Linked DNA regions of Homo sapiens: all the other regions are linked to region 3. A link means that fine-mapping ties the variant in region 3 to the expression of a gene that starts in the linked region. Tissue or cell type: whole blood. Region 3 holds a variant in brackets; each other region holds the start of a gene. All regions are shown on one strand. Distances are between the middles of the regions.

What was found. PIP is the estimated chance that this variant, and not a neighbour inherited with it, causes the effect.
Region 1: it holds the start of ADGRL1-AS1, and the variant in region 3 is fine-mapped to the expression of ADGRL1-AS1 in whole blood (INTERVAL, PIP above 0.99).
Region 2: ADGRL1 starts here. The variant in region 3 is fine-mapped to the expression of ADGRL1 in whole blood (TOPMed, PIP above 0.99).

Annotation. Positions count from the first base shown.
Region 1 is chr19:14,135,467-14,139,466 of GRCh38, reverse strand. ADGRL1-AS1 (ADGRL1 antisense RNA 1) reads right to left here and starts at 2,315. Exons shown (of 3, transcript NR_045214.1): 1 at 2,244-2,315. ASF1B (anti-silencing function 1B histone chaperone) reads left to right here and starts at 2,878. Exons shown (of 4, transcript NM_018154.3): 1 at 2,878-3,119. The coding sequence starts at 3,011. RefSeq lists enhancers at 2,233-2,392, 1,889-2,515, 2,593-2,732 and a silencer at 3,063-3,112.
Region 2 is chr19:14,204,138-14,208,137 of GRCh38, reverse strand. ADGRL1 (adhesion G protein-coupled receptor L1) reads left to right here and starts at 1,969. Exons shown (of 23, transcript NM_014921.5): 1 at 1,969-2,153. RefSeq lists silencers at 1,176-1,275, 1,296-1,355.
Region 3 is chr19:14,160,506-14,164,505 of GRCh38, reverse strand. ADGRL1 (adhesion G protein-coupled receptor L1) reads left to right here. Exons shown (of 23, transcript NM_014921.5): 5 at 1,100-1,900; 6 at 2,880-3,194; 7 at 3,810-3,913. All of the region lies in intron 2 of ADGRL1-AS1 (ADGRL1 antisense RNA 1), which reads right to left. Among named protein-coding and RNA genes, the nearest start is that of ADGRL1-AS1, 25 kb to the right of the region's middle. The variant T/C (reference allele first, on the strand shown) is at 1,677.

The sequences.
Region 1 (4,000 bases), 25 kb after region 3:
GTGGACTGCTTGAGGCCAGGAGTTTCAAGACCAGCCTGGGCAACAGCGAGACCCTGTCTCTACAAAAAATTTAAAAAGTATAAGAGGCAGGGCACGGTGGCTCATGCCTGTAATCTCAGCACTTTGGGCGGCCGAGGTGAGTGGATCACCTGAGGTCAGGAGTTTGAGACCAGCCTGGCCAACATAGTGAAACCCCATCTTTACTAAAAATACAAAAATTAGCTGGGTAAGGTAGCGTGTGCCTGTAGTCCCAGCTACTCGGGAGGCTGAGGTGGGAGAATCGCTTGAAGCTGGAAGCAGGAGGTTGCAGTGAGCTGAGATTGCGCCACTGCATTCCAGCCTGAGTGACAGAGCAAGACTCCCTCTCAAAAAAAAAATAAAATAAAATAAAACAAATTAGGCATGGTGGCACGCACTGGTGATCCCAGCCACTCGGGAGGCTGAGGTGGGAGGATCACTTGAGCCCAAGAGTTCCAGGTTATAGTGAGCCACGATTATGCCACTTGCACTCCAGCCTGGGCAACAGACCTCTATTAAAAAAAAAAAATCCCACAGGAACTGGATTGTTTAAAAAGAAAAGGAAAAGGAAAACATACTAGCACAGTGAGTGAGTCCTAGTGAGCCCACAGAGGTGACTGGGTAAGAAATACTAGTGCCTTGGCTCAGTGCTGTTCAGGCGTACGGCCTGTGAGTTTGAACACTGTCCAGAGCACCCTTAGAAAGGCCTCTCTGGGGAGAGGACATTTGAACAGAGACTTGAATGACAAGAAGGCATAAGCCATGCCAAGAGCCTAGGAGAAGAGGTTCTGGGCAGAGGCTTTGCACTGGGAGTGGCTTGTCAGAATTTTAACAAAAAGAGGGTTACTTAGCCTGGTTTGAAGTTGGAGCTGGGTGGTTAACAGGAGACAAAGCATAGAGTTTCAAAGACAATGCTCTCATCCGGAGAAGTGACCTGGTCAAATGTGTTTCTGACCTTCGCTGTCCAGTAATACAGGAGCCACTTGTCACACGGGCTCAGGAGCACTCAACTGCGGCTATCAAGACAGCTAAACTGAACTTTCTTTTTTAAAATTTAATTTTAATTTTTAGAGACAGGGTCTCACTCTGACACTCAGGCTGGAGTGCAGTGGCTGGAGCATTCTGGGCTCAAGAGATCCTCCTGCCTCAGCTTCAGGAGTAGCAGACACTACAGGTATGCACTACCACACCTGGCTTATTCTTTTATTTTTTGTAGATATGAGGTCTTGTTATGTTGCCCAGGCTGATCTTGAACTCCTGGCCTCAAGAAATCCTCCATGACCAGCCTCTAAAATTACAAATAATAATAAAAAAAGATATGGCCGGGCACAGTGGCTCACGCCTGTAATCCCAGCACTCTGGAAGGCCGAGGCGGGCGGATCACTTGAGGTCAGGAGTTCGAGACCAGCCTGGCCAACATGGTGAAACCCCGTCTCTACTGAAAATACAGAAAAAAAATTAGCTGGTTGTGGTGGTGGGCACCTGTAATCCCAGCTACTCAGGAGGCTGAGGCAGGAGAATCGCTTGAACCCGGGAGGTAGAGGTTGCAGTGAGCCGAGATCGCGCCATTGCACTCCAGCCTGAGTGACAGCGCGAGATTCCATCTCAAAAAAAAAAAAGTGGCTTCCAAAAAATGTTAATTTTACACCTAATTTTGGTGCGCGGCTGGCATTATTTTTCCACTGGGCAGCACTGATCGCCCGTGGGGGCAGAGACTCTGAGACCTGGAGTCTCCCAGGCCGGGGGCGACGGCCCAGACGGGAGGCGGTGGAGAGAAGTTTCCGGATGTATTATGTGGTCATGAATCATGTCAGGGAATTGCCACGGCCCCCGTTGAATGGGGAGGCGCTGCCTCGGGCGCTGAGTAGCAGAGCCCGGACTCTGAACACTGGTCTGCCCCCGAACTGGAACTCCCATTTTCAGTACCGTCCGCTTGAAACCTCCCAAGAGCCCTCAAGGGGGCGAGAGAGGGATCCAAACCCCTCGGGGGCGAGAGCGGGATCCGAACCCCTCGGGGGCGAGAGCGGGATCCGAACCCCTCGGGGGCGAGAGCGGGATCCGAACCCCTCGGGGGCGAAAGCGGGATCCGAACCCGGCCGGATTCCCGAGGTCTGAGCGCGCCTCGTGACCGCCACTCCGAACGTTCGCAACGTTCACAACGGACTCCCGCGCCGCTGGACCTCAAGGGTCAGGAGCCACTCAGAAAAGCTCCAGGAAACGCTCACCTGTTGACAGACGCTGAGGCCGCAAACGCTCCTCCTCTCTCTTCACACTCGCCAACACCGCGGTGGCGCTCGACTTCCGCTTCTCTCCAGCGAATCCCCAGCTGAGCCTCCTTCTGCTCCCGCCACCATTACCAATCCAGCCAATAAACTCTCAGAAAACCCTCTTTATCTCCGCCCCACTCCCTCCTGCCAATCACTTCGGGTGCGAGCACCGCCCTTCCCGCCTTCTTTAGCGAGCGCCGCGCGCCACCGCTCGGCGGGTGGCGGCGCTGCGCGCTGCGGGATGCATCTCCCGGAAAAGCGAGGCGAGGGGCGGGCCACGCCGGTGCGGGAACCCTCAGGATTGGCCAGAAGGAGGCCGGCGCTGTGACTCCGTCCATTCCCGCCGTTGACATCCAAGTCGGAGACGCTGGGGATTGGTTTCCAGCGGACACGCTAAGAAGCTTGGAGATAGTTTCGCCCTCCTCACACGCTGCGGAGAGGGAGCTCCGCTGATTGGTCCGAGGAGTCTGGGCGCGCGCCGATCGGCGCTCCAGGACTGGCTGAGGGGGTGCGCGCGCCGCCAGGGAGCGTTGGCGGTGATTGGCCAGAGGGCGGAGGCCGGCTATTTGAAGGCGGCGCGCGGACTAGGTGCGCACTTCAGTTCTCGGAGAGAAGAGGCGGGAGTGGACCTGGTCAGCCCTACCCCACTGACCCCACCGGACCCAGGCGCGGCCTCCGCCACAGCCACAGCCCCTGCCCCTGCTGCGGCGCGGCGAGGCGAGGCGATGGCCAAGGTGTCGGTGCTGAACGTGGCGGTCCTGGAGAACCCGAGCCCTTTCCACAGCCCCTTCCGGTTCGAGATCAGCTTCGAGTGCAGTGAAGCCCTGGCGGACGGTGAGGCTGGGCCTGTGCGGGGACCCCCACCCCCGGGCCGACCCCGGCCTCCCCTCAGAGAACCGCTCCCATGGCCAACTTGATCTCCCCCATGAAACCCCTCGTCCCCCTTCCGCCAACCCCGATCTCCCCCAGCCCGCCAGTCAACCGGATCTCCCGGTGGAGACCCCCCGCCACCAGCCAACACGGACCTCCCCGTGACCTCCTCCCCCACTGCCCGCCTTGACCTCCCGGGTGGAGACCCCCCGCCAGCTAACTCGGACCTCCCAGTGGCCTCTTCCCCCACTGCCCGCCCCGACCTCCCCATAGAGATTAACCCCCTCCAAGCCCCATTTCCCGCGTGGGGAACCTCATCCATCTTTTTTCTCTGGAGCTCTTCCTAGGTACCCGTTTTCATGGGGAGACCTTCTCGGCCTCCATTTCTTAACCCACGGAGATCTTCAGCCACCGTGGTTTCCCTGTGGCAAGACCCCCGCTTCAACCACCCACCCATTTTTGCCCACTTATTCCCTCTTTCCTGTAGTGAGATACTCACACCTCCCATTTTCCCTCTGGAGACCCCCAATATCCAGCCCCTTCCCATTTTCCCCGGGGGAAATCCCAGCCATCTCCTATTTTCCCTATGGAGACCTCTCACCCAAGCTCCTCTCTCCTTGCCGTGAAGACCCTCCCCTCCAGTAACCTTTTTTTCCTGTGAAAACCCCTCAACCCCTTTTCAGGACCTCTCTCAACCCCATCTTCCCATTTGTGTCCCACCAGTCCCCTCCCCAACCTGCCAATATTTCAATAACCCCACGCCCACCAGTTGCTGCCGCTTTTCTGCCCCAATGCACATACCCTGGAACCTGGTTTCTCTCCTTCGTTGGGGCCCAACCCCCCTA
Region 2 (4,000 bases), 44 kb before region 3:
CCCTCCAGCCCCCACCCTGCACAAAGTTGCCTGTTCTGCCGAAGTGCCTATTTTTGGCTTGGGGCCCAGTTTTATAGCCCCAGCTATAGGTCTTGGCAGTCATAACTTTCGCTCTCCAGAGAGCCAAGCCGGGTCCAACAGCCTTCCCCACCCCAGAGAGGGGGTGCGGGGGCTCCCTCTGCAGCCTCAACCCGAAACCTGCCCCTCGCCTCACTTGGTCTGATGCCTGGGAACCCAAGCCTGCTTCTTGCCCTACTTCTTAGAGTCCACCAGCTGCAATGGAGTTGTTAGGTGTTGAAAATCCATGCCGGGTTTTTACTCTTTTAGAGAACATAAAATTCAATTTTTCCCCTCGCACCCCCTCCCCAAAAGCAAGACTTTGAGGCGTTTACAGGTACAAACCTCCCCCTAACGCTTCCCTCCGCCCCTGCTGCCCGGTCAGCTCCAAGCCCCTGTCCCGGTGGCCCAGGATCTTCTGCTGAGGGTCTCATCCCGTCCCGCGCTCCAGTCCTGGCTTTGCGTGCCTCCCTCGCCTTTTATTGTAGGTCTGGTCTCCCAGGGTAGCGGCCTCATCGCATTCCCTTCGCAGCGCCCCTGGATCCAGAAACCGCTTTTACCTGTCCGCTCCGGTGCAGCCAGCGCGCCAAATCCCTTCGTACCCGAGTCCAGTCCTCCTTTTGCCCGTCCCCCTTGCACGTCGCTGCCAGGAAGATGAGGGCAGCCCAAGTCGCCTCAGCCACTAAGCATCCCCCTTCCAGAACCCCCCACCATGCGAACCCAGGTCCCGGGAGTTCCGGGCCGGGTCTTGCTTGTTTCCACTGCGTTAGGCCTGACGCATTACTCCGTCTCCCGAGAAAGAATCCGGCCCGAAATTTGCGTGCCCCGGGTGCATTTGGCCATGTCGCATCTACCCCCCAACCCCCCGCTCCAACACCGTTCCTCCCATCTTTATCTAATCCAACTCGGGTTTTGCACAACCCTTCCAGATCTCCCCATTTGCGCCCTCCTTCCCCGGGCTCGGCGCCTTTCCTTATACTTCACTGGAAAATCCGCTCCGGGTCTTCCTTACGCCTGTCTCCCTTCCCCCACTCCCCGCTCCAACGCGGGGCTCCAGCACGTCGCTTTCCCTCTCCCTGCTTTTCCAGGGAGGAGGCGAGAGGAGGCGAAAGGAAGGAAAGTCCAGCCCGGGTTTTCGGGCCGGCTCCTGGGGCGCTCAAGCGGGTTGCGGCGGCCAGTCCCGGGCGGCGACTCCGGGCCGGGTTTTGCGCGCGCCCACCGCCCCCCTCCCGGAGCGGGTGCGCCGGGGAGCGGGGCGAGCAGGCGGCTTGTCATTGCTGGTGCCCGGCGCCGGCTCGGTCCGCGCGTCCTGCGGTGCCCACGGGCCCGGCCCGGCGCCCCCCCTCCGGCCGCACCGGGGGCGCGACGCCGCGGCACCCGCCTCCAGCCGCGCCGCCCCCCTCCGCCAGCTCCGCGCCGCCCGCCCCCAACCCGAGCTCCCCGCGGCCACTGCGGGGAGCCCGAGCCGTCGGCGCGGGAGCTGTCGGCGCTGCGGTGCCCCCGCCCCGCCGTCTGCCGAGGAGGCCCCGGCTGATGGGGCCGCGCGGGCCCCGGAGCGGCGCCGCCGGGCGGCGGGGGCCTGCAGGGGCGCCCCGGCTGCCCCGTTAACCCCTCGTCCACCGCCGGCGTCGGAGGGGGCTGGGAAGTCGCCTGGGCGCACACGTGCCGCCTCCGTCGGGGCCGCGGAGCTGCGGGGGAGATGCGGGCCGCTGCCGGCGCCGCCTCGGGGCGCTCCGCCTCGCCCCAGCCCCCGGCGCTCTGACGCCGCCCCCGCCCCACCGCCTCCCTCCCCGGGAGGGGCGCAGACCCGATCGCCCCCAGTCCCGAGCCTCCGCCGCCGCGAGGGGGCCGCCTTTGGATCCGTGTAATCCGCCTCTTTTTTTTCTTTTCTTTTCTTTTTTTTTTTTTTTCCTAATTTTTGGTCGGCGGCGGTGCTGGGCCAGGGGAAGGAAGGGACACGGAGGCCGCCCTCGTCCCGCCACCTCCTACCCGCTTCCCCCCAGCCCCGGCTCCGGGAGATGTGCCGGGCGGGGGGCCCGGGTTCGCCGAGCCGCAGGAGAGACACGCTGGGCCGACCCCAGAGAGGCGCTGGACAGGTGAGTGTCTGCGGGCCCAGGGCGAGGGGCGAAGCCGCACCTGGGCCAGGTGTGCGGGGCGCGTGGAAGAGGGGAGGCGGGAAGGATGGGAGGCCGGGGCCTGTCCTGGCCGCGAGGGGGGAGGGGACACGGGAGCCGCGCGGGGCACCGCACCTGAGCGGGAGGGGCGTCGGGGGCAGCCCGCACCTCACCCCCACTGGCGAGGGGCCTGGGAGGGGCGGCCCCCACGGAGCGCCCGGGGCGCGGGGGTGCGGACGGGCTACCGCAGGGTGCCTGGCGGGGGGAGGGGACCGCGAGTGTGCCCGCGCGTGGCTGCGTGTGCCCGCGCGCGCGCCAGCCTTTGTGGGGAAGCGGCGCGGCGGTGCCTGCGTGTCCCCGGTGCGTGTGCGCGCGGGTGCTTGGCGCCCTGTTTGTGTAGGTGTCTGGGTGTGAGCGGAGGGGGTGCGTGTGCGCGCCGCGCGCCGGCCCCGCGCCCCAGAGGAGCCGTGTCGGGGGCTGGCACCACAGGATGCTGGGCGAGGGGGTTGTTTTTCTCTGGGAGGCAGTGGCGCGGGGGATGGGGAGGGGTCCGTCTGGGTGTCCAGCCGGCCGCAGTCCGGGGGGCGCCGCTGTCAGGAGGAGGGGGTGCAGCCGGGCAGCACCTTCTCTCCGTGGTGCCGGGTTAAAGCACGGGAGGCCGGCAGGTTTGATCCACTCGGATTATTCGTGCTTTGAGGACAGCTCCCCACCCCCACCCCAGGTGCGCATTGGATTGAGCTGCGAGGGTTTGGTTGTCATCCTCCCATCTGACGGTCCTGGGACCCGAGTCCAGGCCTGAAGTGGTGGGGTGGGGGGATGCTGTGTTTGCTCCAGCCGTGTCCAGAAAATGCCCTCCCAGGTATCTCTCCAGTGCACCCCTGGCCCCCATCTGAAGACAGCCGCTGGCTACACACACCCCTGTCTCTACACTTCCAGTCCGGGTCCTCACACTGCCCCATCCCTGGCCAACACCTCACTGTACCTGCCTGGACCCTTTCTTCCTGTTCCAACCCCCATCCACCCCCAGCCATGCCAGCTGCGTGGGTGTTTCTGTATCCCAGTTCCAGGCAGGGCCCCCCCTTCCGCCTGGCTTCCACCGGACTCAGAGCTGGGGTCTGTCTTCCCACATCCCACTTCCCAACATGTGTGCCTGGGGGCAGGAGGGGGAGGGGTTCAAAATGGCTGCCAAGATGGCTGGCTCGCGCGCTCTCTCTCTCTCTGTCTGTCTCTCTCTCTCTCTCTCTCTCTCTCTCACTCTCTCTGTCTTTCTCTATCTCTCTCTGTCTTTCTCTCTTCCCCTCTCTGCTTGCCCGGCTCCCTTATCCTGGTAGGGAGTCACTGCTTAGAGGAGGTCGGATCCAGTGGGGCACACCTGAGGGTGAATGTCTATTCCGGGCCGTTGACCTCCATGCTGTTTGGGGACAGACCATTGGTTTCTGCTTCTCTCTCCAACACCCCAAGGGCTGGCATGAGTCTAACCTGACCCCAGACCCCACTCCTTCACCCTGGCTCACAGCCTGAAAGCTCCGTGCCCTCCACCTGCTCTCCAGGGCCTGGCCCCCTGAATTGATCAACCCCACGGAGGGTCCACACCCCTCATTCTCTTCTCCTGTCTGCCCCCGGCAGGGGACTCTGCGTGGGTCCCTGTCAGGCCCCAGCTTTGGGGGGCAGGTGACTTCTCCTTCCTCCCTGCTCCCCTCCCACTAATGCCAAATTTATTACTTAAAAGTAGGATGAAAACAGGGAGAATAAGAGAAGGATTACAACCTTCATTATCATATCGAGAAAATTATCCGTGATTTTCCTAACTAGCAATTTGTCTGCCATGC
Region 3 (4,000 bases):
CCTGAGGGACCCTCAGTCGGGCCTGGGCCTTGGAGTGAATTCTCTGCTCACCCCTCTCTCCTCCGCCAGCACTAACCCTTTCTTCCCAGGTGGTTTGCAGCGCAGCCTCCCACGGAGCCAGGACCTCGCCAAGCCCCATACGCCCTTGTCTCTCTTCCCTCTGCACAGCTCTCCTCTCCCTCCCCAACTCTCCCGGGAGCCCTGTCCCTCTCCATGTCCCCACCCCCACCCCTGTGCACAGTGCCACTGTCTGCTGCTGAGCCAGACCCCATGAGAGACCCTGCCGGCTGGGGGCAGGGCTGGGCGCCCTCCAGGAGGGGCCAGACTCTTTCATTCCCCGTCCTAGCCTGGGAGCTGCCTCTGGGAATCCCTTCCTCGGCTACTGACTTCGTGGGTACTGGGTGGGGGGTGGGGAGCAGGCTGCATCAGGAACCTGGGGAGAGAGTTGAAACCCCTATCCTGGAATAGGGAGACACTCCTGACACCCACAGTGGGTATGGAAACACCACTCTACCTTGCAATTTTTGCAGGAGGAAGAAAGAGGAGTTAAAAAAAAAAACACTGTCCGGGTGTGGTTGGTGAAGGATGGGATCCTGGACCCTAGCTCTTCCCTAAGTGGCAGAGAAGAGGGAGAAGGGGCCGGGTGCTGAGTCCCTGGACCGTCAAAGTCAGGAGTGACTGTAGCGGGGAGATTCTGCCCCCACTTAAATCACACAGGACCACCTCTGGGAGGGCTCTTGCCAAACTCCTCCCCAGCCTGTGGGGTCTCTAGCAGCCAGGGAAGGGAAGAGGGGCACCACTTCCCCTCACTAACCCCGCTCTTAATGGCCTTCAGGGTTCACATTTCCAGGGAGAGGGGCAGCTGGGCAGGGCGTGGGGAGGGGGTCGGGTCCCAGCCCGGAAACCCCCTTCCCATCACCAGCCATACCAAGCAACCGTGACTGCAGCAGCAGGAGGGGACAACCTGGCTCCCCACCAGCAGCGTGACCAACTTGCCTCTCTCCCCCCTCTCTCTCTCTCTCTCTCTCTCTCTCTCTCTCCTCCCTCTCGCCTCTGCCCCTTCTCTCCTACCTCCTCCCCTCCCGCCCACTCTGCCCAGTCTTCGTGTGCCCAGGGACCCTGCAGAAGGTGCTGGAGCCCACCTCGACACACGAGTCAGAGCACCAGTCTGGCGCATGGTGCAAGGACCCGCTGCAGGCGGGTGACCGCATCTACGTGATGCCCTGGATCCCCTACCGCACGGACACACTGACTGAGTATGCCTCGTGGGAGGACTACGTGGCCGCCCGCCACACCACCACCTACCGCCTGCCCAACCGCGTGGATGGCACAGGCTTTGTGGTCTACGATGGTGCCGTCTTCTACAACAAGGAGCGCACGCGCAACATCGTCAAGTATGACCTACGGACGCGCATCAAGAGCGGGGAGACGGTCATCAATACCGCCAACTACCATGACACCTCGCCCTACCGCTGGGGCGGAAAGACCGACATTGACCTGGCGGTGGACGAGAACGGGCTGTGGGTCATCTACGCCACTGAGGGCAACAACGGGCGGCTGGTGGTGAGCCAGCTGAACCCCTACACACTGCGCTTTGAGGGCACGTGGGAGACGGGTTACGACAAGCGCTCGGCATCCAACGCCTTCATGGTGTGTGGGGTCCTGTACGTCCTGCG[T/C]TCCGTGTACGTGGATGATGACAGCGAGGCGGCTGGCAACCGCGTGGACTATGCCTTCAACACCAATGCCAACCGCGAGGAGCCTGTCAGCCTCACCTTCCCCAACCCCTACCAGTTCATCTCCTCCGTTGACTACAACCCTCGCGACAACCAGCTGTACGTCTGGAACAACTATTTCGTGGTGCGCTACAGCCTGGAGTTCGGGCCGCCCGACCCCAGTGCTGGTGAGGACGACTCACTTCCAGGCATGGAGCCTGCTTGCCTTTGTCCCCTCCACCCCCACCCACCCCTGGGTCCCAGAGTGGGGAGCCCCATCCTGTGAGCTCTTGGGGATCGGGAGGTAAAGGAAATTCACAGCATGTGACAGACGCTGTTCTAAGCACTTCACAGTCATTAACTCGTCTCCTCACGGTCTATGACACAGGGATCCTTACTGCCCTGTTTTACAGATGACACTGAGGCTCTGTGTGGGTAGGGGATTAAGTTATTTGAGGATTTGAACCCAGCCTCCCAACCACTGAACTGCAGTGCCTCTCCCAGGGGCCTGGGCACCTTTACTCCAGGAACCCTTGGATCCACCAAAATCCTGGGTGGAAGTCCAGTATCCACAAAAGAGCTGAGCTGCTGATGCTGACCGGGCTGAGGGCAACTCTGCAGTCTTCTTTTGCCCCGCCTAGCTGCCCTGCTAGCTCTGTGCCACCCCAGGGCTCCAGGGAGCCCGATCTAACCCCATCTTGTTTGCAAAAGGGGGAGTTGAGGCCCCCAGAAGGAAGGAGCATAGCCAGGTTACATAAGCCAAAGTCAGCTAGAACGAGGATGGGGGGCGGTGGTATTCAGCCCCCACCTGGTGGCGGGGCTGACCTGGATTGGGGAGGGCTCCTGCCCTCGGGCTCAACCTGGGAGGATTCCTGTCCCCCAGACACCTCTGTCCCTGCCTCTCCCCTGACCGTTCTCTCAGACCTTATGGTACACATCGTGGATTTTTACCACTCTTTGCTACTTTATATGGGCCCATGGGCATAAGGGACTTTGGTGGGCACAGAGCGGCCAGGGGAGATCAACTCATAGACCCAGTGGGGCCCGGCACGTGTTTCCACTTCAGTAGATGAGGAAGATGCTAAGATGGCCTGGGACCCCCTGCCCAAGCACACTGTGGCATGGCCCTGAGCATGGGGATGACCCTGTCTCGTATCCCCTCTCCAGGCCCAGCCACTTCCCCACCCCTCAGCACGACCACCACAGCCAGGCCCACGCCCCTCACCAGCACAGCCTCGCCCGCAGCCACCACCCCGCTCCGCCGGGCACCCCTCACCACGCACCCAGTGGGTGCCATCAACCAGCTGGGACCTGATCTGCCTCCAGCCACAGCCCCAGTCCCCAGCACCCGGCGGCCCCCAGCCCCGAATCTACACGTGTCCCCTGAGCTCTTCTGCGAGCCCCGAGAGGTACGGCGGGTCCAGTGGCCGGCCACCCAGCAGGGCATGCTGGTGGAGAGGCCCTGCCCCAAGGGGACTCGAGGTGAGTACAGAGGCTGCAGCCAGGGGAGGGATGGGGGCCATGCCCCCAGCAGCTTAGCACAGATGCATGTGTGGGTGGGGGTCTCTACTGCGGAGCAGAGGTTTTCTGAGGGCAGGGGTCATCCCCAGTGACCAGCAGAGCTCTCAGGGCACAGGAGCCACTCAGTGCCCCTGGCCCCACCTGCAGAACCTGCAGGGAGTCCGCAGGAGGTGACCTGGCTCCCGGCCTCAGGCTGACCTGCCACAGCCCCAGGCACAGTCAGCTTCACATGGATGGCCAGCTGAAGTGCAAAAAGGGCAGGGCCGTGTGTCCTGGAGATCTGAGGGGAGGGTTGGCAGGTGCTTCGTGGAGAGGGGGCGTTCAAGATGGGCCTTGCTGGAAGGTTCTAACTCTGGAGGCAAAGACAGAAGGGGGCAGGAGGGAGAGCTCAGGGGAAGTGAGTGGCGCCTCTTTCGACTGTCCAGCCCGCTTCATGTCTGTTTCTCCGTGTTTCCCTCACCTCCCTCTTCGCCCGCTCGTCCCCCACTCTCTGTCATCTCCTTTCCCCCTCTCTGTCCCATCCTTCTCTTCTTCCCTTTGGCTCCCTTGTCTGTTCCTGTCTGTCTGTCCCTGCAGGAATTGCCTCCTTCCAGTGTCTACCAGCCTTGGGGCTCTGGAACCCCCGGGGCCCTGACCTCAGCAACTGCACCTCCCCCTGGGTCAACCAGGTGGCCCAGAAGGTACCAGCCACCACCCCTCGCAGGCAGGCACATGTGCTCGGGCCCAGGGCCCAGGGCCCAGCGGGGGTCGTGGAGCAGCTGGGGAGA